Linked DNA regions of Homo sapiens: all the other regions are linked to region 2. The links come from fine-mapping of genetic effects on gene expression. A gene starts in region 2. Each other region holds a variant in brackets. All regions are shown on one strand. Distances are between the middles of the regions.

Evidence for each region.
Region 1: its variant is fine-mapped to the expression of NOD1 in whole blood (INTERVAL, PIP above 0.99).
Region 3: its variant is fine-mapped to the expression of NOD1 in whole blood (TOPMed, PIP above 0.99). The same link has a PIP of 0.9 or more in aorta, blood mononuclear cells, breast, cerebellum, esophagus mucosa and esophagus muscle.

The regions. Positions count from the first base shown.
Region 1 is chr7:30,414,929-30,425,288 of GRCh38, reverse strand. It overlaps NOD1 (nucleotide binding oligomerization domain containing 1), which reads left to right. Exons shown (of 14, transcript NM_006092.4): 14 at 1-762. Among named protein-coding and RNA genes, the nearest start is that of LINC01176, 29 kb to the right of the region's middle. RefSeq lists an enhancer at 5,071-5,674. The variant C/T (reference allele first, on the strand shown) is at 5,560.
Region 2 is chr7:30,473,485-30,483,844 of GRCh38, reverse strand. It overlaps NOD1 (nucleotide binding oligomerization domain containing 1), which reads left to right and starts at 5,061. Exons shown (of 14, transcript NM_006092.4): 1 at 5,061-5,239. RefSeq lists a silencer at 4,933-5,172 and an enhancer at 4,821-5,565.
Region 3 is chr7:30,441,367-30,451,726 of GRCh38, reverse strand. NOD1 (nucleotide binding oligomerization domain containing 1) reads left to right here. Exons shown (of 14, transcript NM_006092.4): 6 at 1-511; 7 at 3,346-3,429; 8 at 4,677-4,760; 9 at 5,503-5,586. Among named protein-coding and RNA genes, the nearest start is that of NOD1, 32 kb to the left of the region's middle. RefSeq lists an enhancer at 1,701-2,201 and a silencer at 5,729-5,888. The variant T/G (reference allele first, on the strand shown) is at 5,344.

The DNA of each region.
Region 1 (10,360 bases), 59 kb after region 2:
GCCATAGGGACCAACGGGAGCGAGTTGGTCACCGCTCTTTTCATTGAAGAGTTGAGGATGTGGCACAAAGTTGGTGCCAAGCTTCTTGAATAAAACGTGTTTGATGGATTAGTATTATACCTGAAATATTTTCTTCCTTCTCAGCACTTTCCCATGTATTGATACTGGTCCCACTTCACAGCTGGAGACACCGGAGTATGTGCAGTGTGGGATTTGACTCCTCCAAGGTTTTGTGGAAAGTTAATGTCAAGGAAAGGATGCACCACGGGCTTTTAATTTTAATCCTGGAGTCTCACTGTCTGCTGGCAAAGATAGAGAATGCCCTCAGCTCTTAGCTGGTCTAAGAATGACGATGCCTTCAAAATGCTGCTTCCACTCAGGGCTTCTCCTCTGCTAGGCTACCCTCCTCTAGAAGGCTGAGTACCATGGGCTACAGTGTCTGGCCTTGGGAAGAAGTGATTCTGTCCCTCCAAAGAAATAGGGCATGGCTTGCCCCTGTGGCCCTGGCATCCAAATGGCTGCTTTTGTCTCCCTTACCTCGTGAAGAGGGGAAGTCTCTTCCTGCCTCCCAAGCAGCTGAAGGGTGACTAAACGGGCGCCAAGACTCAGGGGATCGGCTGGGAACTGGGCCAGCAGAGCATGTTGGACACCCCCCACCATGGTGGGCTTGTGGTGGCTGCTCCATGAGGGTGGGGGTGATACTACTAGATCACTTGTCCTCTTGCCAGCTCATTTGTTAATAAAATACTGAAAACACTCTTACGGGTTGAGTCTGGAGTTTTTGAAGGGACTTGGCTTGGTAAGCACTCATTGACTCCTGAGCCCCATCCTGATTCACTCCACAGTGGGGAAGGGGCTCTGGGGTGATGTGCTATGAGGAGAGCCTGATGAAGGCCAGGGGTGTCACCAGTTTGATCCTTCACAGGCCTCTCTGCCTACCAAGGGACAGGAAGCGGCTGTGGCAGCCTCTGAGGTCTCTCCATCTGGCCTCTGAATCTCTTCAGGTGGCTTCTCAGAGGAAATAACTTGTGAGTAGGGGGTGGCTGGTGCCAGGACAGGCCAAGTGGGCCAAAGTTCATGCCTTCATCACCATGCCATGGTAGAGCCCACGGGCCAGGTTCGACGTCCACTACCTTCCTCGGCTGTTCACTGCTGAGTGGCGGATCCAGGTAGGCCCATGGCAAGAAGCACCGAGCTGCCAGGGGCAGCACGTGACAGAGGAAGGCATGCAGGGCCTCCAACGGTCCACCTCTGAGTTCTTATGAGTCCAAGCCTGGCTTTGTAGAGCAGCCTGTTAGGAAGGGGACCGTTGCGGGGGAAATCCTGTACAGTTAAGCAACTACAAGGCGGCAGTTCCTTAAAGGCTCGATTTTGGTGGTTCCTACGAGGTCCCTCCCAACCCCAGACCTGAGTATTCACCTAATAATCACCCCAAGGCAGCCACTCTCTCCTTACTGCAGAATCTGGGCAGCAAATATGCCCAGAAAGAAGAAAGAAGGGAATGAGCATGGCCCACTGAAGGCCAAAGGGGGAGTACCACAGACCTCAGACTCGCCAAGTCTTACCACAAAGTTCACTTCTCAGCAGACAAAATTCACATTTTATTAAACTGCTAAAACTAAACCCTTGAGAGTCTAAAATTTACTCAGAAACTACCAAATGTTATTGCTTTTAGAGACTATCAAAATTAAAACTGCTGCTTCTAGGGAATTAGAATTTGTGTGGTATTGACTTAAATTCTATTTGGAAATACTTTGATCTTCCAGATGGCAAGTGGTAGATTTTCTATTCCTCCTGTAAAACTGAGACCAGGCTCCTAATTTGATGGAAAGGTTCTCTTATTAGAAACAGGTGAGCTTCTGAGCAGAAACATGGAGACTTTTCCTAATCAAGAAAAAGACAATTGAAAAAAAAAATTCTGTAAACGAGGGCTATATCTCTTTCTTTCCACAGGACATCTTGATTGATTTTGGGAAAGAAGCTACAGCTCCCATATTTCACACCTGCACTTGTGTCATGTCCATGCTGACATGGAACTTCTTTAAAAAGCCATGTGGAGCCACTGTGTGGCCATGTGGTATTAGCTCTCTGGAGCGCCCTAGCTGTGTGGCTTTGGAGCACTCTTAAGACGGCCAGAATCTTGATTTCCTCCTTGGAAAAACTGAGAGAATCTGACTCAAAAGGTTGTTGAGAGGATTAAATGAGTCATGGAAAGTAGCTGGCACAAAGCCTGGCACAGAGTCCTGCTCAACGTATGGCAGTTAGTTACTATCAAGCCAGCGGGTCTCATTTCCGCTCACCGTGGGACTCCCAAGTTGTCCCCTTCTCACTCATAGGCTCAGGGAACTTTCCAACAAGGTCCAATACAGGACTAGGAGTTCTCAAAGTAAAACCCCAAAGTATTCAACATCAAGCTTCCTGCAATATCCTACCTTTGTCAGTGAAAAGCATAGCTGTTAGTTTTCATTATTATTACCAAAGACCATACTGCCATTTAAGTGTCAAGTCACTGAACATAGGGGGCACCTGTGTCTTCACAGCACAAAAGAACAGGGCAGGAGCTGGCACCACCCTATGGAGCCAGGCCCATGAGCCTTTGCCAAGCGGGAAAGCGCTTTCTGCTCATCCATATTTTGGTTCACTTCCAGGTGGACCACAGGTCTGTTTCCAGTAACCAACTGCTTACTTACAAGAAAAAAACCTTGCTCTAGAGCTGAAAGGCAAAACCATGACCATTAACCCAGGATCATGAAGAAGAATTTTAATGAAAGTAGAATGGCATTATGAGGAGGCTGAGACTCATTTTACCAGAGGACATCCCAACACTACTCTCTCAACCTTAAAATGGAATGAACTGCACCCAAGACCAGCTTAAGACTCTTAGAGACATTAAGTACTGAAAAGGTTATAGGCCCCTCTGGATCTATAATGAAAATATTTAAATACTAAATTATAAAGTAAGTGCAAAGATGTTAAACAAGTTTCTAATCTTTCCCATGACTACTTGGGTGTTTTTTCAGACCAATAACAAATATTAAAGTGTCTCAATTTTTTCCTGGACTTTTTTCTGTTATAAAGTGCATTTATTTTTGTTGTCAAAGTAATGTTGTTACCCAGTGTAACGTCTGTGTGACCTAAGTAAATTTCTTCCCCACCTTAACTCTGGTTATCTTTAGGAAACGGGATGTCTGTGGTCAAAAGCTCCCCATCATGACACCAAACCAGCTAAGAGTGGTGGGAACCAAGATGGCAGCTCACTTGACCTCTGAAGAACCTCTAACTTCATTATAATCTAATTTCCATGCTAAATGACCCTCCCCCCAGTGCCAAGACAGCTGACAATCACCATGACAACGACCAGAAGAAACCATAAAAGGACAAAAAAGGGGGACAAAAACTCTGGTTCTGAGAAGTTATCTACCTAATTCCCAGAAAAGACATGAATACTTTTCCCCTTGCTTTTAATTCCCCAACCCCTTCATTAAAGATGCTCCATATCTGTGACTTCCTGGCTCTCATGGGGAATGTCCTATATTTGTGATTTCTTGGCTGTCATAGGGGGATGCCCTATCCCTCATGGGCTGAGAAGTTGATTTGTGAGCCAGGCTCCCACATCTCAGTTCTATGGGCATCAAATAAAGCCTGCACTGCTAGATGCACACTTTCAATTTTGTGTATTGGCTTTGTGGCACCAAATAGGAAAATACTCCATTTTAGGGGGGATTAGCCTTGTCAGTAATGTCATAAAGGGAAAAATTTAATGTTTATAGTAACACAACACTAACACAGCTATTTTAATTTTTGTATGTAATCTTCCATGCTCTGCCTACTTTGAGACATCTTTTTACATAATTATAATCACAGAGTACATTAGCAGTTCTTTTTGTCATTTTCCCACACTGTTAGTCTCTATTATTTATTAATATATTCTACCAGTTTGAGAATTTGCTTAATAATATTCCAGACGTTCAGGTTAGACCTTCAAGTTTCCAGATTGACTGTGGTGGTGGTCACTATAGACAATATTTCTATGGAATTAAAAAATTCTTTATAGTTATTTCTTTGGAATGAGATTATCAAGGCAAAGATTCTTGCTATTAATTAGCCAGGTATAGTGATGTATAACTGTGGTCCCAGCTACTCCAGAGGCTGAGGTGGGAGGACCGCTTGAGCCCAGGAGGTCTAGCCTGTAAGTGAGCCTGGGTGACACAGTGAGACCCTATCTCAAAACAAAAACAAAACCAAAAACAAACAAAAAAACCCAGACCGTTGCTATGAAATATTATTTTTTAACCTATGTCAAGGGTGTAGTAAGTTTGGAAGCAAGTGAAAATTAGAGACCAATGTAATGTGAAGCCAGCAGTGTCTCTTTTGAATAGAATAAAACTCCCTGCCCTAACCTTCACACCAGACCAGTGTTCAGGCACCGCCCATACACATACGTGTGCTATGCCAATGACTGGCTGCAGGGAAGAATAAATGAACACATCAGCATCTGTTTTAAAGTGGCACTGTTGAAGATAACCACTTACTAGTGGGCAAGTGTCACAATCTTTAAAATCAGTTTTCCTTCATGTAAAACCTTTTTATTTATAAATATGTGTATGTGTCCTTCCTTTGCCTAAACAAACCCAGCCTGGCTAAACCCATGAACATCAGGCCAAATAAAAACTTCCTCCCAATGACCCTGTGAAGTAGAATTATTTCCTGAATGAGGAAACTGAGGACTAATAATATGAATATGTATCTTACTAATCAGGATTTGTATAAAAATTAAAAAAAAGCGGAGGAGCCAAGATGGCCGAATAGGAACAGCTCCGGTCTACAGCTCCCAGCGTGAGCGATGCAGAAGACGGGTGATTTCTGCATTTCCATCTGAGGTACCGGGTTCATCTCACTAGGGAGGGCCAGACAGTGGGCGCAGGTCAGTGGGTGCGCGCACCGTGCGCCAGCCAAAGCAGGGCAAGGCATTGCCTCACTTGGGAAGCGCAAGGGGTCAGGGAGTTCCCTTTCCGAGTCAAAGAAAGGGGTGACGGACGCACCTGGAAAATCGGGTCACTCCCACCCAAATATTGCGCTTTTTGGACCGGCTTAAAAAACGGCGCACCACGAGATTATATCCTGCACCTGGCTCGGAGGGTCCTACGCCCACGGAGTCTCGCTGATTGCTAGCACAGCAGTCTGAGATCAAACTGCAAGGCGGCAGCGAGGCTGGGGGAGGGGCGCCCGCCATTGCCCAGGCTTGATTAGGTAAACAAAGCAGCTGGGAAGCTCGAACTGGGTGGAGCCCACCACAGGTCAAGGAGGCCTGCCTGCCTCTGTAGGCTCCACCTCTGGGGGCAGGGCACAGACAAACAAAAAGACAGCAGTAACCTCTGCAGACTTAAATGTCCCTGTCTGACAGCTTTGAAGAGAGCAGTGGTTCTCCCAGCACGCAGCTGGAGATCTGAGAACGGGCAGACTGCCTCCTCAAGTGGGTCCCTGACCCCTGACCCCCGAGCAGCCTAACTGGGAGGCACCCCCCAGCAGGGGCACACTGACACCTCACACGGCAGGGTA[C/T]TCCAACAGACCTGCAGGTGAGGGTCCTGTCTGTTAGAAGGAAAACTAACAAACAGAAAGGACATCCACACCAAAAACCCATCTGTACATCATCATCATCAAAGACCCAAAGTAGATAAAACCACAAAGGTGGGAAAAAACAGAACAGAAAAACTGGAAACTCTAAAACGCAGAGCGCCTCTCCTCCTCCAAAGGAACGCAGTTCCTCACCAGCAACAGAACAAAGCTGGATGGAGAATGACTTTGACAAGCTGAGAGAAGAAGGCTTTAGATGATCAAATTACTCTGAGCTACGGGAGGACATTCAAACCAAAGGCAAAGAAGTTGAAAACTTTGAAAACAACTTAGAAGAATGTATAACTAGAATAACCAATACAGAGAAGTGCTTAAAGGAGCTGATAGAGCTGAAAACCAAGGCTCGAGAACTACGTGAAGAATGCAGAAGCCTCAGGAGCCGATGCGATCAACTGGAAGAAAGGGTATCAGCAATGGAAGATGAAATGAATGAAATGAAGCGAGAAGGGAAGTTTAGAGAAAAAAGAATAAAAAGAAACGAGCAAAGCCTCCAAGAAATATGGGACTATGTGAAAAGACCAAATCTACGTCTGATTGGTGTACCTGAAAGTGATGGGGAGAATGGAACCAAGCTGGAAAACACTCTGCAGGATATTATCCAGGAGAACTTCCCCAATCTAGCAAGGCAGGCCAACGTTCAGATTCAGGAAATACAGAGAATGCCACAAAGATACTCCTCGAGAAGAGCAACTCCAAGACACATAATTGTCAGATTCACCAAAGTTGAAATGAAGGAAAAAATGTTAAGGGCAGCCAGAGAGAAAGGTCAGGCTACCCACAAAGGGAAGCCCATCGGACTAACAGCGGATCTCTCAGCAGAAACCCCACAAGCCAGAAGAGAGTGGGGGCCAATATTCAACATTCTTAAAGAAAAGAATTTTCAACCCAGAATTTCATATCCAGCCAAGCTAAGCTTCATAAGTGAAGGATAAATAAAATACTTTACAGACAAGCAAATGCTGAGAGATTTCATCACCACCAGGCCTGCCCTAAAAGAGCTCCTGAAGGAAGCGCTAAACATGGAAAGGAACAACCGGTACCAGCTGCTGCAAAATCATGCCAAAATGTAAAGACCATCGAGACTAGGAAGAAACTGCATCAACTAATGAGCAAAATCACCAGCTAACATCATAATGACAGGATCAAATTCACACATAACAATATTAACTTTAAATGTAAATGGACTAAATGCTCCAATTAAAAGACACAGACTGGCAAATTGGATAAAGAGTCAAGACCCATCAGTGTGCTGTAGTCAGGAAACCCATCTCACATACAGAGACACACATAGGCTCAAAATAAAAGGATGGAGGAAGATCTACCAAGCAAATGGAAAACAAAAAAAGGCAGGGTTTGCAATCCTAGTCTCTGATAAAACAGACTTTAAACCAACAAAGATCAAAAGAGACAAAGAAGGCCATTACATAATGGTAAAGGGATCAATTCAACAAGAAGAGCTAACTATCCTAAATATATATGCACCCAATACAGGAGCACCCAGATTCATAAAGCAAGTCCTGAGTGACCTACACAGAGACTCAGACTCCCACACATTAATAATGGGAGACTTTAACACCCCACTATCAACATTAGACAGATCAACGAGACAGAAAGTCAAAAAGGATACCCAGGAATTGAACTCAGCTCTGCACCAAGCAGACCTAATAGACATCTACAGAACTCTCCACCCCAAATCAACAGAATATACATTTTTTTCAGCACACCACACCACACCTATTCCAAAATTGACCACATACTTGGAAGTAAAGCTCTCCTCAGCAAATGTAAAAGAACAGAGATTATAACAAACTATCTCTCAGACCACAGTGCAATCAAACTAGAACTCAGGATTAAGAATCTCACTCAAAACCGCTCAACTACATGGAAACTGAACAACCTGCTCCTGAATGACTACTGGATACACAACGAAATGAAGGCAGAAATAAAGATGTTCTTTGAAACCAACGAGAACAAAGACACAACATACCAGAATCTCTGGGATGCATTCAAAGCAGTGTGTAGAGGGAAATTTATAGCACTAAATGCCCACAAGAGAAAGCAGGAAAGATGCAAAATTGACACCCTAACATCACAATTAAAAGAACTAGAAAAGCAAGAGCAAACACATTCAAAAGCTAGCAGAAGGCAAGAAATAACTAAAATCAGAGCAGAACTGAAGGAAATAGAGACACAAAAAACCCTTCAAAAAATTAATGAATCCAGGAGCTGGTTTTTTGAAAGGATCAACAAAACTGATAGATCACTAGCAAGACTAATAAAGAAAAAAAGAGAGAAGAATCAAATAGACACAATAAAAAATGATAAAGGGGATATTACCACCGATCCCACAGAAATACAAACTACCATCAGAGAATAGTACAAACACCTCTACGCAAATAAACTAGAAAATCTAGAAGAAATGGATAAATTCCTGGACACATACACTCTCCCAAGACTAAACCAGGAAGAAGTTGAATCTCTGAAGAGACCAATAACAGGAGCTGAAATTGTGGCAATAATCAATAGTTTACCAACCAAAAAGAGTCCAGGACCAGATGGATTCACAGCCGAATTCTACCAGAGGTACAAGGAGGAACTGGTACCATTCCTTCTGAAACTATTCCAATCAATAGAAAAAGAGGGAATCCTCCCTAACTCATTTTATGAGGCCAGCATCATTCTGATACCAAAGCCGGGCAGAGACACAACCAAAAAAGAGAATTTTAGACCAATGTCCTTGATGAACATTGATGCAAAAATCCTCAATAAAATACTGGCAAAACGAATCCAGCAGCACATCAAAAAGCTTATCCACCATGATCAAGTGGGCTTCATCCCTGGGATGCAAGGCTGGTTCAATATACACAAATCAATAAATGTAATCCAGCATATAAACAGAGCCAAAGACAAAAACCACATGATTATCTCAATAGATGCAGAAAAAGCCTTTGACAAAATTCAACAACCCTTCATGCTAAAAACTCTCAATAAATTAGGTATTGATGGGACGTATTTCAAAATAATAAGAGCTATCTATGACAAACCCACAGCCAATATCATACTGAATGGGCAAAAACTGGAAGCATTCCCTTTGAAAACTGGCACAAGACAGGGATGCCCTCTCTCACCACTCCTATTCAACATAGTGTTGGAAGTTTTGGCCAGGGCAATTAGGCAGGAGAAGGAAATAAAGGGTATTCAATTAGGAAAAGAGGAAGTCAAATTGTCCCTGTTTGCAGACGACATGATTGTATATCTAGAAAACCCCGTTGTCTCAGCCCAAAATCTCCTTAAGCTGATAAGCAACTTCAGCAAAGTCTCAGGATACAAAATCAATGTACAAAAATCACAAGCATTCTTATACACCAACAACAGACAAACAGAGAGCCAAATCATGAGTGAACTCCCATTCACAATTGCTTCAAAGAGAATAAAATACCTAGGAATCTAACTTACAAGGGATGTGAAGGACCTCTTCAAGGAGAACTACAAACCACTGCTCAAGGAAATAAAAGGATACAAACAAATGGAAGAACATTCCATGCTCACGGGTAGGAAGAATCAATATCGTGAAAATGGCCATACTGCCCAAGGTAATTTACAGATTCAATGCCATCCCCATCAAGCTACCAATGACTTTCTTCACAGAATTGGAAAAAACTACTTTAAAGTTCATATGGAACCAAAAAAGAGCCTGCATCGCCAAGGCGATCCTAAGCCAAAAGAACAAAGCTGGAGGCATCACACTACCTGACTTCAAACTATACTACAAGGCTACAGTAACCAAAACAGCATGGTACTGGTACCAAAACAGAGATATAGATCAATGGAACAGAACAGAGCCCTCAGAAATAACGCCACATATCTACAACTATCTGATCTTTGACAAACCTGAGAAAAACAAGCAATGGGGAAAGGATTCCCTATTTAATAAATGGTGCTGGGAAAACTGGCTAGCCATACGTAGAAAGCTGAAACTGGATCCCTTCCTTACACCTTATACAAAAATCAATTCAAGATGGATTAAAGACTTAAACGTTAGACCTAAAACCATAAAAACCCTAGAAGAAAACCTAGGCATTACCATTCAGGACATAGGCATGGGCAAGGACTTCATGTCCAAAACACCAAAAGCAATGGCAACAAAAGACAAAATTGACAAATGGGATCTAATTAAACTAAAGAGCTTCTGCACAGCAAAAGAAACTACCATCTGAGTGAACAGGCAACCTACAAAATGGTAGAAAATTTTCGCAACCTACTCATCTGACAAAGGGCTAATATCCAGAATCTACAATGAACTCCAACAAATTTACAAGAAAAAAACAAACAACCCCATCAAAAAGTGGGTGAAGGACATGAACAGACACTTCTCAAAAGAAGACATTTATGCAGCCAAAAAACACGTGAAAAAATGCTCATCATCACTGGCCATCAGAGAAATGCAAATCAAAACCACAATGAGATACCATCTCACACCAGTTAGAATGGCAATCATGAAAAAGTCAGGAAACAACAGGTGCTGGAGAGGATGTGGAGAAATAGGAACACTTTTACACTGTTGGTGGGACTGTAAACTAGTTCAACCATTGTGGAAGTCAGTGTGGCGATTCCTCAGGGATCTAGAACTAGAAATACCATTTGACCCAGCCATCCCATTACTGGCTATATACCCAAAGGACTATAAATCATGCTGCTATGAAGACACATGCACACGTATGTTTAC
Region 2 (10,360 bases):
TTTAAGAGATGGGCTAGCGGCTTGTAACCTACATGGAAGAGGTTATGAAATGATGACAGAATAGAATGGGCCTGTGAGGCTGGAAAGAGATATTTTCCTTGGTCCTAGAACCATTTGCCTTATGTGGGAAGAGATTGATAAGTGGAAGTTTCAGTGGGACAGTAGGTGGGAGTGACCGAAGAGAAGGATAAAAACTGGCCATGAGGGACAGAAGTTGGAACTCTAGCTGCTTCTTTAGCTACCTTATCAGCATAAGCATTGCCCTGAGTGATGGGATCTGATGCCTTTTGATGGCCCTTGCAGTGAATGACTCCAGCTTCCTTTGGAAGTAAAGTGGTCTTGAGAAGAGTTTTTATTAAAGAGGCATTAATGATGGAGGACCTTTGCGTAGTGAGGGAACCTTTTTCTGCCTATATAACAGCATGGTGGTGCAGGATATGGGAGGCATATTTAGAGACAGTATAAATATTGACGTGTAGTCCTTTTGCAAGAGTGAGGGCTCAAGTTAAGGCAATGAGTTTGGCTTGCTGAGAGGTAGGGGAGCGGGGCAGAGTGGTAGCCTCAAGGATAGATGTGGAAGATACTACTATAGCATAGCCTGCCTTTGCTGGTGAATGGCAATTAGGCCTGGTGGAACTGCCAACAATAAACCAAGTGCGATCAAGGTGAGGAACAGGAAAGAAAGAAATATGGGGAAATGGAGTGAATGCCAGGTGGATTTAGAGAGATACAGTCATGGGGGTCAGGTGTGGTATCAGGAATAATGGGGGCTAGCTAAAACAGTAGGGTTAAGTTATTTGGACAGAAAGGCTACAGGGCACAATCCCAGCTCTTGTGTAAGAATTCTGACTGCACAGCCCTGCACTTCGGCTGTGTGTAATGAAAAAAGGGTTGGGATGAGTTACGGAGAGCTAGTGTGGGAGCAGCTTTTAGGGCTGTTTTTTAAGGAACGGAAAGAGGAGTGGGGAAAGGATTTAGGATTAATGGGGTCAGCTAGGTTTGCTTTTGTGAGTTTATATAATGGTTTAGTCAGGATGGTAAAACTAGGTATCCAAAGGCGGAAGTACCTACCCATGCCTAGGAAGGAAAGGAGTTGTTGTTTTGTAGAAGTGGCTGGGGTTTGGGAGATTAGCCAGTCAGGATCAGCAGAGAGAGCATGTGTTTTTTCATGAAGAATTATGCCAAGACAGGTAATGGATGAGGAAGAAATTTGGGCTTGACTGAAGCAATGGGGGCTGTCCATGAAGCCTTGTGGCAGTACAGCCCAAGTAAGTTGCTGAGGCTGATGGATGTCAGGATCAGTCTAAGTGAGAGCAAAGAGAGGCTGGGATGAAGGGTGCAAAGGAATAGTAAAGAAAGCATGTTTGAGATCCAGAACAGAATAATGGGCTATGGAGGGGTTGTGGAGGGAGGTATTGAGGATAGGAGAGTATATGGGTTTGGCACCACAGGGTGGATAGGCAAGACAATTTGGTTGATAAGGCGCAGATCCTGAACTAACCTGTAAGGCTTGTCCGGTTTTTGGACAGGTAAAATGGGGGAATTGTAAGGAGAGTTTATAGGATTTAAAAGGCCATGCTGTTAACAGGTGAGTGATAACAGGCTTTAATCCTTTTAAAGCGTGCTGTGGGATGGGATATTGGCGTTGAGCGGGGTAAGGGTGATTAGGTTTTAATGGGATGGTACGGGTTGCGTGATCGGTTGCCAAGGAGGGAGTAGAGGTGTCCTACACTTGTGGATTAAGGTGGGGGGATACAAAAGGAGGATGCAAAGGAGGCTTTGAACTGGGAAAAAGGGCAGCATTGAGGTGTGGCTGTAGCCTAGGAATAGTCAGGGAAGCAGATAATTTAGTTAAAATTTCTCGACCTAATAAGGGAACTGGGCAGGTGGGGATAACTAAAAAGGAGTGCATAAAAGAATGTTGTCCAAGTTGGCACCAGAATTGGGAAGTTTTAAGAGGTTTAGAAGCCTGGCCATCAATACCCACAACATTTATGGAGGCAAAGGAAACAGGCCTTTGTAAAGAAGGTAATGTGGAGTGGGTAGCCTCCGTATTAATTAAGAAGGGGATGGACTTACCCTCCACTGTAAGAGTTACCCAAAGCATCTGTGATGGTCCAGGAGGCTTCTGAGGCGATCGGGCAGCGTCAGTCCGAGAAGATCTGTAAAGGAGTCAGTCAGAGAGCCTTGGGCCAGACAGAGTTCCAGGGGCTCTAGCAGTGGCTGCTGGGCGAGTTGGACAGTCTGATTTCCAGTGGGGTCCTGCACAGATGGGACATGGCTTGGGAGGAATCCCGGGCTGCACACATTCCTTGGCCCAGTGGCCAGATTTCTGGCACTTGAAGCAAGATCCTGATGGAGGAGGTCCTGTAGGAATGCTTGACCACTGCGGCTTAGGCATTCTGATGTTCTTGTGTGCTGGAGGTGCGGCTGGGTTTTGTCTTACAGCAGAGGCAAGTAATTGTAACTCAGAAATGCATTGCTGTCTGGCTGCCTCCTTTCTATTATTGTACACCTTGAAGGTGAGGTTGATTAATTCCTTTTGTGGGGTTTGAGGGCCGAATTCTAATTTTTGGAGCTTTATGTAACGTCGGGAGTGGATTGGGTACTAAAATGCATACTAAGACAGCCTTCTGACCTTTCAGAGTCTAGGGCTGTAAAGTGTCTAAGGGTTGTTGCCAAAAGAGCCATGGACTGGGCTATGTTTTCATATTTGATGAAAAAAAGCCTAAATGCTAATTGATTTGGGAGAGGTTGGATAAAGAAAAAGGAGCATTAACCTTGAGGAAATTGTTGGGTAGGTAGGGGAGGGCTAGTTGCGGAACGAAACTGTAAGCTGGACCGGGTGTGAGGAGGTGAGGTGATAGAAGGATTATAGGGTGGGGGAGTGGAGGCAGAGGAAGAATTGGGACCTGGCTCAGCCTGGCGAGGAGCAGCCTGGGGAGGAGGGGAGAGGTTAGATGGGTCCATAGAAAAGGAGGATTCACAGGACTCAGAGCTTGGGGTGGAGACTGAAGGAACAGACAGGAGAGAAAGAAGATTTGGGATGAGTCACATTGGGAGCAGAGATTAGGAAGGGACCAATGTGTAAAAGAATGCCTGGACATCAGGCACCTCAGACTATTTGCCCATTTTACGACAATAATTATCTAGCTCATGTAGGATGGAGAAATTGAAAGTGCCGTTTTCTGGCTATTTGGAACCATTGTTGAGTCTGTATTGGGGTCAAACGGTATTGCAGAAGAAAATAAGGCGTTTAGGTTTTAGGTCAGGTGTGAGTTGAAGAGGTTTTAAGTTCTTGAGAACACAGGCTAAGGGAGAAGAAGGGGGAATGGAGGGTGGAAGGTTGCCCATAGTGAAGGAGGCAAGCCCAGAGAAAAGAAGGTAGAGACCCGGAGAAGGGGGGTGGTGAGCAGCCCTGGGCTGCAATGTGGCTGAGCAGCCAAAGCAGGCGACCCACAATTGACTTGCCACCAAGGGAATGTGGGTGAATGACCAAGGCAGGCATCCCCACGGTGATCAGACACCAATGAAATGTACGTGAATAATCAGGCAGGTGTCCCTGCAGTGATTAAACACCAAGGGACGACTGTTTTCCTGAGTCCGTGACCGGAGCTGGAGTTTTGGGTCCATGGATAAAATATGTCTCCTTTGTCTCTACTAGAGAGGAGAAAGAACTGGAATTGGAAATAGAGGGAGATTTAAGGGTAGTGAGAGAGGCTGGAGAAGACAGTGAAAAGACCGCTTACCCGATTTGAAATTGGTGAGATGTTCCTTGGGCTGTTTGGTCTGAGGACCCGAGGTCATAGGTGGATCTCCTCACAGAGTGAGGGTGAGGACAGGGGACTGGTCTCCTGAAGGAGTCCTCCTGTCCCGGGTCTTCGGCACCAAATGTCACACGTGTCCGTGTGAAGAGACCACCAAAAGGCTTTGCGTGAGCAATAAAGCTGTTTATTTCACCTGGGTGCAGGTGGGCCGAGTACGAAAAAAAGAGTCAGCAAAGGGAGTTAGGGGTGTGGTAGCTTTATAGGATTTGTGTGGGTAGTGGAAAATTACAGTCAAAGGGGGTTGTTCTCTGGTGGGCAAGGCGGGGGCCGGGGGGGTGGAAGGTCTACAAAGTGCTCAGTGGGGGAGCTTCTGAGCCAGGAGAAGGAATTTCACAAGGTAATGTCATCAGTTAAGGCAGGAACCAGCCATTTTCACTACCTTTGTGATTCCTCAGTTGCTTCAGGCCATCTGGATGTATACATGCAGGCTTGGGCTCAGAGGCCTGACACAAGTTGGCACATTTGATCCTATCAACTTTAGTTTGCACTTTCACTTTTGATTTAAGAACATACTTTCTGTTTCTCAGAGGGCAGCCTCTGATGGGAATTTTAATACTCACAAGCATCAGTGGCTATATGATTGAATGTACTTCTTCAGTGTGAGTAAGTGACAACTTTCTGTAGCATGATATCCCTTATGGACACGATCCCCATTCAAAACGTTTTAAAACTATTTTATTGGGGACATTTATTAGCATGTTAAAACTCTTTTACAACCTATTAGAGCATATGCATAGAACATAAAATGTACACTGCCAAGAACAAATTTAAGGATAGGAAGAAAAGCTTACATTTTTTAAAAAGTATAAATTGAAATGTATGCAGTGTAATTTAAATTTGATTACGTTAACCTCCATTTCATCAGGACCACGTGTCGCGTTTTAACAAGAGTTTCCCTATCATGTCCAGGCTTTGGCTCTGGTTGCAGGCGCTGGGTAGGCACTTTTACGAGGAGGGACCTGGCACGATGGCACCACAAATTCCCAAGTGTGTCACCTCTGGGCGAACTTGGGCCTGTCCACTCGGCCCTGCGCGGTGGCCAGGGGCTCACCCTCTCGCACCGGGCGTCCCTCTGCGCGCAGCTTCTCTCGCCCCCCCGCGCCAGACCCGGGCGAATGGCAGCACCGTGGGACCCTGCCTTGACCGCCCCCGCCCTTCGGCGGCCTCTCCCAGCAGCCGGCAGGCTCTTGGGCGCGCCAACAGAGGGGCGCGGCTGCGGCTGTAGTCGCAGCCAGTTCCCGTTCCGGGCCCGCGAGGCAGCCGCCCCGGTCCTGCCCCTCCCTCGCGCTACTGCGGGAGCAGCGTCCTCCCGGGCCACGGCGCTTCCCGGCCCCGGCGTCCCCGGACCATGGCGCTCTCCGGGCTCTTCTCTAGCTCTCAGCGGCTGCGAAGTCTGTAAACCTGGTGGCCAAGTAAGTCCCAGCGACTGGGGATTCGCGCGGGGCAGGCCCTTTCTGAGGTCCTGGGCGCTGCGAGTGAGGAGGCGCAGGGAGGCGGGATTTGCGTGCGGGCGGAACGCAGCGCGGCTCTGGAGGAGCTCTGGGTGGAACCAAGCGGAGAAACCCGCGAGTTTGAAGCATGTAGCGAAAGTTGAGAGGGATGAACTTCACAGTCAGCGGAATCGTTTATCCCACTGTGGTCGAACGCAGGGGTTCTCAATCGTGCCAGCAGCTTAGAACCACCTGGGGAGCTTTTAAAATCCAGATATCCAGGCTGCACCCTAGATCAATTCCATCAGAATCTCACGGAGTCAGACCCAGGCCTCCGTATCTTTTAAAAGCTCCCCAAGTGATTCCAGTGTGCAGCCAGCGTTCGAGGGTTTGTGGCAAAGGCTGGAAGGGCAGACAGGGGCCTTCATGGAGTCCCGCCTGCAGACGGGACAGCAGCTCCCAGTGTCCTGCTTGGTCCTGGAGAGAGGGTGAGAACTTCCCTTGGGTTTCATGCTCCACAAAGTAAGGAAATGAGACAATGCTTGGCAAGGTCGCCTGAATATCACATTCAAAAACGCCTCCAATGTGTGCAGTTGTTTTGGCACATTGTGAAAAACATAGGAAATGACAGAGGTTGATGTCTCATTAGCTCTGCATTCTAGGAAACATTTCGGTTGTTGGTGTTTGAAATTAAGTCTGGGGAAGCTAAGCTAGTAAACCCATGGCCTTGATGACTTCTGGCCTTTCTGCTTTAAGGGTGAAGCCAGGGCCGGGCGCGGTGGCTCACGCCTGTAATCCCAGCACTTTGGGAGGCCAAGGCAGGCGGATCACCTGAGGTCGAGAGTTCGAGACCAGCCTGGCCCAACATGGTGAAACCGTCTCTACTAAAAAAAAAAAAAAAAAAAATTAACCGGGCGTGGTGGCGCATGCCTGTAATCCCAGCTACTCGGGAGGCTGAAGCAGGAGAATTGCTTGAACCCGGGAGGCAGAGGTTGCAGTGAGCCGAGATCGCCCTGTTGCGCTCCAGCCTGGGCAACAAGAGCAAAACTCCGTCAAAAACAAACAAACAAACAAAAAACAAAAAAACGGTGAAGCCAGAAGTCGTGCTTGCCAAAGGGTCGAGTTTGTTCTCCCTCAAAGCCCCTGTTGAAGATTGAACTATCACTTTCAGGGAAGAGTAAAAGAGTAACTCCACGATGCATCTTAGAGAGGAGTGGATTCCCTGTTCTCACCCAGGCTTAGATGCCAGGGGCCAGGTAGCTGAAATCCAGGCAAACCAGGCATTGACAAAGTACAGACTTCTACCGAATATGCCAGACAGATAAGCAAGCTGTGTTTAAAACAAACAGCAGAGTGGTAGAAGAGGGCTCTTTCAAATATTGTAAGAAGAGTAGGTTTTATTTTTGTGGAGTGGAGAAATAAGTTCACGCTTTGGAACCCATCAAATCTGGGTCAAAACTCGGATTCTGTCACTTCTATGCTGTGACTTTGGGCAAGTTCCTTGACCTCTCCAAGCCCCTGTTTTCCCACCTGTAAAATAAAGAGCAACCCTCTCCTGAGGCTAGCATAGTTCAGCGAGATGATGTGCATCACACACCTGGAAGGTGGTGGCGCTGGCAGGTGCTCTGGCAGAGGTAGTTATTAGACACTGGAGTGGCAGTTTGTGCCCGTTAATTGTTTACTTAGTACAGCCACTATGAGGGAGAATGTCTATAAAATGTTCCCTTCAACGCTCCATTCCTTCTCCTGCCCTGCTGCCCCGCTCAGGGCCTTAGCGGGCTTTAAGTCTGAAATCTTAGGCTGCAAATCCCCTCAGTCCCCCAGGGCGTATTAATGGCTCTGGAATACAGTTTTACTGCATGTGATAGGAATGAATATTTTGACACACACACACTCAAAAGCTGTTCTTAATCTTGAGACTTCCTCCTCTCTGTTGCCACATATATATCTTTTAAATGGCTTTCCAAGAAAGCTGGGCTGTGCACAGTGTCTCAGAATTAGTGTATGTGCACACACACGCACGTTGCTCCCTGCTGACAACATCCTCAGACCATACCCTTGGTGTTCCTGTTTTGCTCCTGACTCTTGGCCTAGGGACAGTGAATCTTTCTTGAATGACCAAGGACAGTCAGGGATCTGAGGAAGGGAGAACCCAAATTCTACAATTGCTGATGCCTGCGTCCCAGCTGGAACTTTACCCTGGTACGTGCTCTGTGCATCATGGATGGTCACTTTGATCCTAACAGCAGTGCTGTTTAGATTAGACATCAGAAATAGAAACAGTAAGTAATATAGGCATAAAGATCAAGTGTTTTTCTAGTGTATGTGTGATCACTGATATTTGCTTACACAAGACTATCAAAGTCTTATCTCTTATTCAAAGAAAAGGATTCAATATTTGTTCAAAATCTAAGATATGAACGTAGGATTTAAGGTTTAAGTTACTAGTTTCTTCTATCATTCTTATTATTGGGGGGATTTTTTTTAGGCAAGAAGAAATTAGAAAAGCTAAAATGTGTACTTATGCTGAATTTTTGTCATGCAGAGGCTCTAGGTATTTTGCAAGTTTTCAGAAGTCCCATTTTCTTTTATCTTCTAGGGACAGTCAGTTGCATGTCACACAAGGGGCCTCCTTTGATTTATCCAAAAGGTCTGACCTGGTTTCTGGAAAAACTCTTTAGCGCATCAAATACTCGTTGAGGGCAAGTGTTGTTTCTAAACTTGACTCTTGTGGTGAGAGGTGAGTAGTCACTGGCATGTCAGTTAGCTGACATTTTTTACCCACGCTAGAAAGTTCATTCAGGCAAGACTTCCTGGCTTGAACTCTTATTTAAACATGTGTTTTATCTGGAACTGCCACAGTCCAAACTGTGGGCAGAGATTCCTGTGCAGAGTTGGCTAAGGCAGGCATGCCACCGGCCCTTCTCTTCGCCATCCTCCCTGTCTCTGGAGCCATTGAGCCAACCGGGGATGATGCCACTCTGAAGGGATCTCACCTTGGTCCTCTAATGGGGCAGAGTTCCCTGATGAGGGATGCACGTCCTTAGAGCCAACAAGGCAATTTTGTATTATACTGCATGGAAATTAAAAGTTACTCTCCAGTAAACTGCCACTTTAGAATTTGTTTTACTGAAGCGTCCTTTTCCTCTAAATTATAGAGCACTGTAGTAAGGGCCCAGATAATTTCAAAGTGAGCACCAGATTAGTGCCAGATTTTGGCAGATTAAGATTTTAATAAAACATGAACATTCACCTTGATTACATTTGTTTCAGAAAGTTGATGTCCCTTGGCCTTCTGTTCTGTCATTGCCACCATACAGGTTAGGGTCAGAATTGGGAGAATGTAGTCATTTGGTAGATATTTTCAGAGCCACATGCAACTGGGCCTGGCAGTCACATATTGCTAAGGAAACGCCTTACATGATAGCAGAGCTGAGAGCAGATGATGATTTACTTGGGAGAGTATTCGTTTTCTAATTCCCAAAAGATTAAAAGTCTAATGAGTAAGAACTTCCCCTGCTTCTTGTAACACATGCCCAGATTGCTGCCTATGACCTCAAAACCAAACCTTCTTGGAAGGAACTGGGGGAAAGCTAGGCTTTTTTGGCAGGGGATATCCTAACTCCTTACAACACAGGCCCCTTCAGTGAGTGGGTCATTTCTGGACTCCATTTAACAAAGCTAGTGTTTCATACTTAATATGAAAACAGGCGTGTTGATGATTTCAAATAGAGATGTTGGGTCTATAAAGTATACCAGACATGCAGGGCTGAAATGGAAGAAACAATGGGTTTTGGAGTCAGAACCAGGATCCAATTCCTGTTTTATTCCTTACTTCAGGGGTCCCCAATCCCTAGGCCATGGACCAATACCAGTCGGTGGCCTCTTAGGTGGGCCGCACAGCAGAAGGTGAGCAGCAGTGAGCAAGCATTACCGCCTGAACTCTGCCTCCTGTCAGATCAGCGGTGGCATCAGATTCTCATGCGAGGGGAACCCTATGGTGAACCGCACACGCGAGGGATCTAGGCTGCACATTCCTTATGAGAATTTAATGCCTGATGATCTGAGGTAGACAGTTTCATCCTAAAACGATCTCCCCTGTGCCCCTACTCGCCGCTGTCTGTGGAAAAATTGTCTTCCATGAAACCAGTTCCTCGTGCCAAAAAGGTTGGGGATCACTGCCTTAACTAACTGTGTGACCTTCACCAACATACTTAACCACTCCAACTCTGTGTCCTCCTTTGTAAACTAGTTACAATAATGCTTTCCTTGCTGGGCAGTTTTCAGTATTTGATGAGCTAATCTATGTAAAGTGCTTAGCACATCACCCAGCTTCTAGTAAGTCATGATTATGATGATAAAGATTATGATGATTACTTTGGTTCCAGGGCTGGTCTTTCCTTCTCCTAGTTGTGTGACTTCAGATAAGGTTTTTAATCTTCTTGAGCCTTGGCTTTTGAATCTGTAAAATGGGCTAACTCTACCTATCTGGAAAGATTGCTTTGAGGCTTGATTTGATTAAATGAAATGATGACAGGCCTGATCTGGTAGACCCTAAATAAGAATAGCATTTACATAGACTTCCTGTGTCCCACACTGGTCTAAGAGTTTAGGGTTTTTGTTGTTTGTTTTTAGCTCATTTTATCTTCCCAGCGCCCCTGTGCAGTGGTTATCATTTCCCTTGTTTTATAGAGGAGACAACTGAGGCTCAACAAGATTAAATAACTAGCCCAAAGTCTATCCCAGGACTTGAAGCAGAGTCCCTGTTCTTAACCACTGCCCCAGCTGCTCAGTGAGTACCCCCACCCCTGCTTATTCTACCTACCTCCTGATGCCCATCTCCTGCCATTAACAGTCAGATGTGCTTATGCTCTGTGTAGGGCCATATTTCTGGAAACAGAGCCCCTGCTTCCAAAGAGCAGCTTACTTAGGAAGTGAAAGTGGCAGCTCACTCCTCCTGTCGCCTCCTCCCACTTCCAGATAACATTAAACCTCATCCATTGCTTAGGCTGGTTAATATCAACTGGAAAAAAAAATCTGATACCGATATTGACTAACATTATTAGAGTGGGTTGCAATGTTAGTTTTGAGATAAATGTCATC
Region 3 (10,360 bases), 32 kb after region 2:
CGTTCCAGTGCCTGCAGGGCAGTGGTCCGGCGCGGGAAGACCTCTTCAAGAACAAGGATCACTTCCAGTTCACCAACCTCTTCCTGTGCGGGCTGTTGTCCAAAGCCAAACAGAAACTCCTGCGGCATCTGGTGCCCGCGGCAGCCCTGAGGAGAAAGCGCAAGGCCCTGTGGGCACACCTGTTTTCCAGCCTGCGGGGCTACCTGAAGAGCCTGCCCCGCGTTCAGGTCGAAAGCTTCAACCAGGTGCAGGCCATGCCCACGTTCATCTGGATGCTGCGCTGCATCTACGAGACACAGAGCCAGAAGGTGGGGCAGCTGGCGGCCAGGGGCATCTGCGCCAACTACCTCAAGCTGACCTACTGCAACGCCTGCTCGGCCGACTGCAGCGCCCTCTCCTTCGTCCTGCATCACTTCCCCAAGCGGCTGGCCCTAGACCTAGACAACAACAATCTCAACGACTACGGCGTGCGGGAGCTGCAGCCCTGCTTCAGCCGCCTCACTGTTCTCAGGTGAGGCTGCCAGGCAAGGGGAGCAACAGGTGGGCCGGGCGGGCCAGGCTCGGAGGGCATCGGGAATGGCATCATGGACCAGGATCCCCCAGGACTCATGACCATGGCCCTTGGAATGTCCAGACCTTTTCTTTCTTAGCAGGGCAGAGGTCAAGGTGCAAAGCTTCGAGGCAGGTGGACCTGGATCAGCCACAGCTGGGTGCCCTTGAACAAAGTGCTTAACTCTCAGAGCCTCCACGCCCTCATCTGGAAAAAGAAGATGCTCATAATCCTATCAATTATGGCCACAGGGACCAATGTTAGTTGAGAATGGGTGAAGTGCATTACAAATATTACCTAATGGAATGCTCTTTACAACCCTGTAACTTAGGTACTGTTATTGTCTCTATTTTGGCAGATAAGGAAGTAGAGGCACAGAGAAGTTAATAGCTTGCTTTAGGTCACACAGCTCAGACATAGCAGTGCCAGAATGCATAAAGAACCTTCCTTTTAAGATTAATGTAAGGCTCCGAGATAGCCCTCAAAAAGTTTCTGGAATATGGGAGCTTTTATTACTGCAGAGAAAGCAGACCTTGTGCCAGTTGGCACTGGTGACTTTCTGTGATCAACGCTAGCAGCCCTTCACACTGCTAGAGACCTCAGTTAAAATGCTGACTCGTGGTTGTTTTCCTGTTCCATAGTTTACGGGAAACAGAGCCCAGTCTGTTTTCTTCTATTAGCATTTCCTATGTAAAATAAACCTTGTAAATCTCTACAGGGGGTTAAATTTGCCATTACTTGACTCATGCATTTCTAAAAAGCAGTAGGGATTTGGAACTGACTCCCAGTGCCTGTCACACCAGTGTCAGAGTGTAAATAATTGCATGGGGACATGGGGTGCAGGGGGTCGAAGGCTGCCCTAGCCTGGGAATTGGAAAACCTGGAGTCTGTTCTCTGTACTCTCAGCCAGTGACTCTCCCTCTGTAGCCCCAGGCAGTCTCACACTCAGTGCCACCCTCTGTCCATCTTTTTTTTTTCTCCCCCAAATGGAGTCCCGCTCTGTTGCCCAGGCTGGAGTGCAGTGGCGTGATCTCAGCTCACTGCAACCTCCGCCTCCTGGGTTCAAGCGATTCTCTTGCCCCAGCCTCCTGAGTAGCTGGGATTACAGGCACACGCCACCATGTCCGGCTAAGTTTTTTGTATTTTTAGTAGGACGGGGTTTCCCCATGTTGGCCAGGCTGGTCTTGAAATCCTGACCTCAGGTGATCCGCCCGCCTCGGCCTTCCAAAATGTTGGGGTTACAGGCATGAGCCGCCGCACCCGACCCCTCTGTCCATCTTTTCAATGGGAAACTCCACACCAGTGTGGTGGCCCTGCCCTTCCTGCTGTCCCCAGGTGAAGCTTTCCTTCACACCAGTGCAAGAAAAAACAGCTTGTAGGAAAGCAGAGGATATGGGTAACCACGGGAAGCACACTCAGTTCTCTGGCTGCATCAGTTAGGATTAGTTTTAGCTGAGAGCGAAAACCCCAAATGTTGGTGAGTTACAAGCTTATTTCTCTCATGTAAAAGTCTAGAGGTAGGTAGTTCAGGACTGGTATGGAGTCTCCATGACCCTCCGGAGCCCAGGCTCTCTTCTGCCTTCCTGTTCTGCCATCCTCACTACCCGGCTTTCCCATCTTGGCCCAAGAGGGCTGCTCAAACTCCAGCCATCTAGTCGACACTCTAGCTATCAGTAAGAAGGAAGGGCAAAGATTGAGAGCATGCCTCAATCTTTTAAGAACACTTCTTGGCTATTACTAATTATATTGCTGCTTAGATTTCAGAACTTAATGGTATGGGCAGAATTTAATGAGATGGGCCCAGCTAAAAGATGGGGGAATCTATTGCTAAGAAAGTATAGATATTGGGAATGTCTAGCAGCCTGTGCTGTCTTGGGCTGGCCATGCCATGTACATACACACTATTTCCCAGCACCAAGCTGGGGACTCTGAGGGAAAGGGTCCAGAGTGTCTGACTTGATCATTTTGATGTGGCCTAAAAATCAAGCTTTTAATTGTTCAGCCTTTTACTTGTTATCAAGGTCAGCTTGTGGGTCTAATTGGGCCCAAGGCTTGTGTTTCTAAGTAAAGTTTTATTGGAACGCAGCCATACCCATTTATTTACTTACTGGCTGCTTCACACTACACAGTTGAGTAGCTGTGACAGAGACCACATGGCCCACAGAGCCTAAAATATTTGCTGTCTGACACTTTACAGAATGACATGAGCAGTCTCCTTTGACAGTGGGACTCACAGCCTTTTCCAGTGACAAATCAGGGTTAGCCCATGTGTTTCTGGATGGGGGGAAGCTGTTGGCATTTTGGGTATAACAGTTCTTGTGAGACCTGTCCAGCATTTTGCAGGACACCTAACATCATTGGCCCTGCCTGCAAGATGACAGGGCACTCCCTCCTCCAGTCACAACCACTAAAAGCAGCCCCTGACATTTCCAAACCCATGCCCTCCACCATACGAGAACCAGGTACAGGGTCTGGCTGACACATAGGTCACACGCAAAGGGTGGATGTCAGAGGTGGCTGGCCTCACACGTCCTCCCTGTGTCCTTCACGGTCGTGTGAGGAGCCAGGGGCTGTGCTGCAGCCTCGCTCATGGGCTGGTGCAGGATGGGTCTGGCGGCCCCACGTTGGCCAGGCTTTGTAAGGGGCTATTTGGCTGATTGCTGTGGCCATTCTCCAGGGGCGTCTATACCTGAGAAAACTCCAGGGCCTGAAGGCTTCTGGATCTTTGTAAGATTAATGGTCCTTCATAATGAGTGCCTGCCCTGACTCGTAATTTTTTTGCTGTTTTATTTCAGACTCAGCGTAAACCAGATCACTGACGGTGGGGTAAAGGTGCTAAGCGAAGAGCTGACCAAATACAAAATTGTGACCTATTTGGGGTATGTCTTTCTCCAGAACACTGGGCCAACTACCTAGTAATAATACAGAGCTGCAGGGAATTCACATTCCCATAGGTCCCTGGATGATCGGCACGGATGGCCCAGGGCTGGGAAGAGCGCTGGCCCAGGAGTTGAGAGTCCTGGGTTCTCTTTGTGGCTCGGCCAGTCATGAAGTCTTGCTGAGCCTCAGCCTCCTCACCTGTAAAACTGGGATCCCAGTATAGGCAAGTAGGCTTACAACTGGTTATTGGGGGATGCAACGAGAATATAAGGGGATATATTTAATAAATGCTAGAATCCTGTTTACATATTAGTCTGGACTATTTTGGGTCCATAATCCCTCATCCAGAGCCTTTGGGGCAAGACCCGAATGGGGATTCTGAGTGCATGCTATGGCATGACGTGGCCGCAGGGGTCTAAGGCAGTGCCCCATTTTCAAACACTTTCATATTTCTCCCGCAGAATGTATGAAACAGTCAAACCAAGTGTGGTAAGAAAGACTATAAGTAGCTCCACATCAGTTGCCAAAAGAATTGTGAGAAACTTTGGGCATTCAGAGCCTTTGAGGTTTTGGAGTCTGAGAGAAGGGATTGCGGGCCAGCCCCACACAACTGGTGGCTCTGCAAGCTGGAGCAGTTGTTCAGTTTCTTGGGGCCTCAGTGGCCTTCGATGTTAATGAGGACATGGACGCAAACGACCCCGGGCCACACTCGGCTCCAGGGCTCTGTGTGGCTGTGGAACCCTGGAAGCCTGAGCTTAGCTGCCTTTCAACTTCCATCTGCTGTACTATTGAATTGGCATTGAGCGGTGAGATGGCTGAAAGGTAGACATCGAGAAGTTTTAATATTCAGAATCTTTTCTTCTCAAGACGCTGAATGTAATCTTAGTTGTAAATACCCATCACCTGCCAGTCACCGAGCACTCATGCACCAGGGCTTTGCGTTATGTCCTAAGATCCTCATAACCACCCTGCAAGGGGACTATCATCATTACCTCTGTATTACAGATGGAGAAACTGAGGCACAGAGAGGTAACGTGACTTGTCTCAGGCCATAAAGCTGGGGAAAGTAGTGGAGCTGGTTTTGAACCTGAGCTGTGAGACCTCAGAGCCCTAAACTCTGGTGCCTGTGTGTTCCCCTTTCAACCCAGACTTTGGAAATCAGTAGACACCATATGCTTCAAAAAACAGGGGCTATTAAAATGACATCAGGAGCCAGAAAGTCTCATGGCTGTGCTTTCTCTTGAAGTTTATACAACAACCAGATCACCGATGTCGGAGCCAGGTACGTCACCAAAATCCTGGATGAATGCAAAGGCCTCACGCATCTTAAGTAAGTGGGGTAGGCACCAGGTTCCTTAGTATATTCTCTTGATCACCCCCTTCTGTTGTTCAAAGATTAAATGTCACAGTAAAGAGCTTTCATCCTAAAGCCTTCCACTTGTCCCAGGGCCATGTTGGTCAAGTAAAGATACCTCTGTGTGATCTGTGAGGCTTGGATTCTGGAAGGGCCTCCCGTTATTGGTAGGGGGAAAGGTTGGCATTTTGATTTCATTAACTACTAGGCCGAAGAAAGGACTAACTCTCACCCTTTCTGGTGGTCTTTTTGCCCCAAGGGAGTTTCCTGTCGGGTTGCAAGGAAGAGCTTGGGCCCTTGCCCTGCTGTAGGTGTGCCCTGCGCAGGGGGTGACAGTGCGCCAGGCTTGGAGCCTCTGGTCCTGCCCTGACAGTGGCCACATACCTTGACCCTTGGCAGTCAAAGTGGGACCTCCCAGGTCTCCCGAGGGAAGTCAGTGATGCTGCTGAGGTCAATTAGAGGACCCCAGGGAGGGCTCAGGTCCCTGAGCTTCTGCAGAGACTGTGGACCATCTCCTGGAGAGGAACCCTGACTGACTGTCCTCAGGGCTTCAGTTCCC[T/G]CCCTGACAGGAGGCCCAGGCCATGGCTCTTGTGGATCCCAGAAGAAAGTGTACGGTTCCCAAGATGGGGCTGGAAGGGGCTCTGTGCTGGGGAGGAGGGTGACCCACATTGGAGCCCCTGCATAGCTGGAGGCTGACTGTGTGTGACTCTCTCTGCAGACTGGGAAAAAACAAAATAACAAGTGAAGGAGGGAAGTATCTCGCCCTGGCTGTGAAGAACAGCAAATCAATCTCTGAGGTTGGGTGAGTAGAAGGGGATGGATGTATGTGGTACAACCTGCTGTGTGTGTGGGGGGCGGGCCTTGCTGTTCTTTTCATACATCAGTACACCAGAAGGACCACTGGGGCTCGCTGTCGGGGAGAGATAGTGGAGAGCTTTCACCATGCTGCGAAACTGAAACCGTGCCCATTAAGCAATAACTCCCCGGTCCCCCTCCCCCCTGCCTCTTGCAGCCACCCTGCTACTTACTCTCTCTATGGTTTTGACTACTCTACCTCATGTAAGTGGAATCATACAGTATTTGCCTTTTGGGGATGGCTGATTTCACTAGCATCATGTCCTCAAGATTCGTCCACATGGAAGCATGGGACAGGATTTCCTTTTTTTTTTTTTTTTTTTTTTTTTTTGACAGAGTCTCGCTCTGTTGCCCAGGCTGGAGTGCAGTGGCATGATCTCGGCTCACTGCAACCTCTGCCTTCTGGGTTCAAGCGATTCTCTCGCCTCAGCCACACGAGTAGCTGGGATTATAGGCACCCGCCACCAATCCCAGCTAATTTTTGTATTTTTAGTAGAGGCGGGGTTTCACCATGTTGGCCAGGCTGGTCTCAAACTCCTGACCTCAAATGATCCACCCACCTCGGTCTCCCAAAGTGTCAGGATTATAGGCGTGAGCCACCGTGCCCCGCCAGGATTTCCTTCTTTTTTAAGGCTGAGTAATACTCCATTGCATGGCTATGCCACATTTTGTTTACTCATTCATCCAAGAACAGACACTGGCTTGCTTCTATGCTTTGGCTGTTGTGAATAATGCTGCTGTGCACATGGGCATACAAATGTCTCTTCAAGGACTGCCTTCAATTCTTTTTTTTTTTTTTTTTTTTTTTTAGATTCTTTTTTTTTTTATTATACTCTAAGTTTTAGGGTACATGTGCACATTGTGCAGGTTAGTTACATATGTATACATGTGCCATGCTGGTGCGCTGCACCCACTAATGTGTCATCTAGCATTAGGTATATCTCCCAATGCTATCCCTCCCCCCTCCCCCGACCCCACCACAGTCCCCAGAGTGTGATATTCCCCTTCCTGTGTCCATGTGATCTCATTGTTCAATTCCCACCTATGAGTGAGAATATGCGGTGTTTGGTTTTTTGTTCTTGCGATAGTTTACTGAGAATGATGGTTTCCAATTTCATCCATGTCCCTACAAAGGATATGAACTCATCATTTTTTATGGCTGCATAGTATTCCATGGTGTATATGTGCCACATTTTCTTAATCCAGTCTATCATTGTTGGACATTTGGGTTGGTTCCAAGTCTTTGCTATTGTGAATAGTGCCACAATAAACATACGTGTGCATGTGTCTTTATAGCAGCATGATTTATACTCATTTGGGTATATACCCAGTAATGGGATGGCTGGGTCAAATGGTATTTCTAGTTCTAGATCCCTGAGGAATCGCCACACTGACTTCCACAATGGTTGAACTAGTTTACAGTCCCACCAACAGTGTAAAAGTGTTCCTATTTCTCCGCATCCTCTCCAGCACCTGCTGTTTCCTGACTTTTTAATGATTGCCATTCTAACTGGTGTGAGATGATATCTCATAGTGGTTTTGATTTGCATTTCTCTGATGGCCAGTGATGATGAGCATTTCTTCATGTGTTTTTTGGCTGCATAAATGTCTTCTTTTGAGAAGTGTCTGTTCATGTCCTTCGCCCACTTTTTGATGGGGTTGTTTGTTTTTTTCTTGTAAATTTGTTTGAGTTCATTGTAGATTCTGGATATTAGCCCTTTGTCAGATGAGTAGGTTGCGAAAATTTTCTCCCATGTTGTAGGTTGCCTGTTCACTCTGATGGTAGTTTCTTTTGCTGTGCAGAAGCTCTTTAGTTTAATTAGATCCCATTTGTCAATTTTGTCTTTTGTTGCCATTGCTTTTGGTGTTTTGGACATGAAGTCCTTGCCCACGCCTATGTCCTGAATGGTAATGCCTAGGTTTTCTTCTAGGGTTTTTATGGTTTTAGGTTTAACGTTTAAATCTTTAATCCATCTTGAATTGATTTTTGTATAAGGTGTAAGGAAGGGATCCAGTTTCAGCTTTCTACATATGGCTAGCCAGTTTTCCCAGCACCATTTATTAAATAGGGAATCCTTTCCCCATTGCTTGTTTTTCTCAGGTTTGTCAAAGATCAGATAGTTGTAGATATGCGGCATTATTTCTGAGGGCTCTGTTCTGTTCCATTGATCTATATCTCTGTTTTGGTACCAGTACCATGCTGTTTTGGTTACTGTAGCCTTGTAGTATAGTTTGAAGTCAGGTAGTGTGATGCCTCCAGCTTTGTTCTTTTGGCTTAGGATTGACTTGGCGATGCGGGCTCTTTTTTGGTTCCATATGAACTTTAAAGTAGTTTTTTCCAATTCTGTGAAGAAAGTCATTGGTAGCTTGATGGGGATGGCATTGAATCTGTAAATTACCTTGGGCAGTATGGCCATTTTCACGATATTGATTCTTCCTACCCATGAGCATGGAATGTTCTTCCATTTGTTTGTGTCCTCTTTTATTTCCTTGAGCAGTGGTTTGTAGTTCTCCTTGAAGAGGTCCTTCACATCCCTTGTAAGTTGGATTCCTAGGTATTTTATTCTCTTTGAAGCAATTGTGAATGGGAGTTCACCCATGATTTGGCTCTCTGTTTGTCTGTTGTTGGTGTATAAGAATGCTTGTGATTTTTGTACATTGATTTTGTATCCTGAGACTTTGCTGAAGTTGCTTATCAGCTTAAGGAGATTTTGGGCTGAGACGATGGGGTTTTCTAGATAAACAATCATGTCGTCTGCAAACAGGGACAATTTGACTTCCTCTTTTCCTAATTGAATACCCTTTATTTCCTTCTCCTGCCTGATTGCCCTGGCCAGAACTTCCAACACTATGTTGAATAGGAGCGGTGAGAGAGGGCATCCCTGTCTTGTGCCAGTTTTCAAAGGGAATGCTTCCAGTTTTTGCCCATTCAGTATGATATTGGCTGTGGGTTTGTCATAGATAGCTCTTATTATTTTGAAATACGTCCCATCAATACCTAATTTATTGAGAGTTTTTAGCATGAAGGGTTGTTGAATTTTGTCAAAGGCTTTTTCTGCATCTATTGAGATAATCATGTGGTTTTTGTCTTTGGCTCTGTTTATATGCTGGATTACATTTATTGATTTGCGTATATTGAACCAGCCTTGCATCCCAGGGATGAAGCCCACTTGATCATGGTGGATAAGCTTTTTGATGTGCTGCTGGATTCGGTTTGCCAGTATTTTATTGAGGATTTTTGCATCAATGTTCATCAAGGATATTGGTCTAAAATTCTCTTTTTTGGTTGTGTCTCTGCCCGGCTTTGGTATCAGAATGATGCTGGCCTCATAAAATGAGTTAGGGAGGATTCCCTCTTTTTCTATTGATTGGAATAGTTTCAGAAGGAATGGTACCAGTTCCTCCTTGTACCTCTGGTAGAATTCGGCTGTGAATCCATCTGGTCCTGGACTCTTTTTGGTTGGTAAACTATTGATTATTGCCACAATTTCAGAGCCTGTTATTGGTCTATTCAGAGATTCAACTTCTTCCTGGTTTAGTCTTGGGAGAGTGTATGTGTCGAGGAATGTATCCATTTCTTCTAGATTTTCTAGTTTATTTGCGTAGAGGTGTTTGTAGTATTCTCTGATGGTAGTTTGTATTTCTGTGGGATCGGTGGTGATATCCCCTTTATCATTTTTTATTGTGTCTATTTGATTCTTCTCTCTTTTTTTCTTTATTAGTCTTGCTAGCGGTCTATCAATTTTGTTGATCCTTTCGAAAAACCAGCTCCTGGATTCATTGATTTTTTGAAGGGTTTTTTGTGTCTCTATTTCCTTCAGTTCTGCTCTGATTTTAGTTATTTCTTGCCTTCTGCTAGCTTTTGAATGTGTTTGCTCTTGCTTTTCTAGTTCTTTTAATTGTGATGTTAGGGTGTCAATTTTGGATCTTTCCTGCTTTCTCTTGTAGGCATTTAGTGCTATAAATTTCCCTCTACACACTGCTTTGAATGCGTCCCAGAGATTCTGGTATGTGGTGTCTTTGTTCTCGTTGGTTTCAAAGAACATCTTTATTTCTGCCTTCATTTCGTTATGTACCCAGTAGTCATTCAGGAGCAGGTTGTTCAGTTTCCATGTAGTTGAGCGGCTTTGAGTGAGATTCTTAATCCTGAGTTCTAGTTTGATTGCACTGTGGTCTGAGAGATAGTTTGTTATAATTTCTGTTCTTTTACATTTGCTGAGGAGAGCTTTACTTCCAACTATGTGGTCAATTTTGGAATAGGTGTGGTGTGGTGCTGAAAAAAATGTATATTCTGTTGATTTGGGGTGGAGAGTTCTGTAGATGTCTATTAGGTCTGCTTGGTGCAGAGCTGAGTTCAATTCCTGGGTATCCTTGTTGACTTTCTGTCTCATTGATCTGTCTAATGTTGACAGTGGGGTGTTAAAGTCTCCCATTATTAATGTGTGGGAGTCTAAGTCTCTTTGTAGGTCACTGAGGACTTGCTTTATGAATCTGGGTGCTCCTGTATTGGGTGCATAAATATTTAGGATAGTTAGCTCCTCTTGTTGAATTGATCCCTTTACCATTATGTAATGGCCTTCTTTGTCTCTTTTGATCTTTGTTGGTTTAAAGTCTGTTTTATCAGAGACTAGGATTGCAACCCCTGCCTTTTTTTGTTTTCCATTGGCTTGGTAGATCTTCCTCCATCCTTTTATTTTGAGCCTATGTGTGTCTCTGCACGT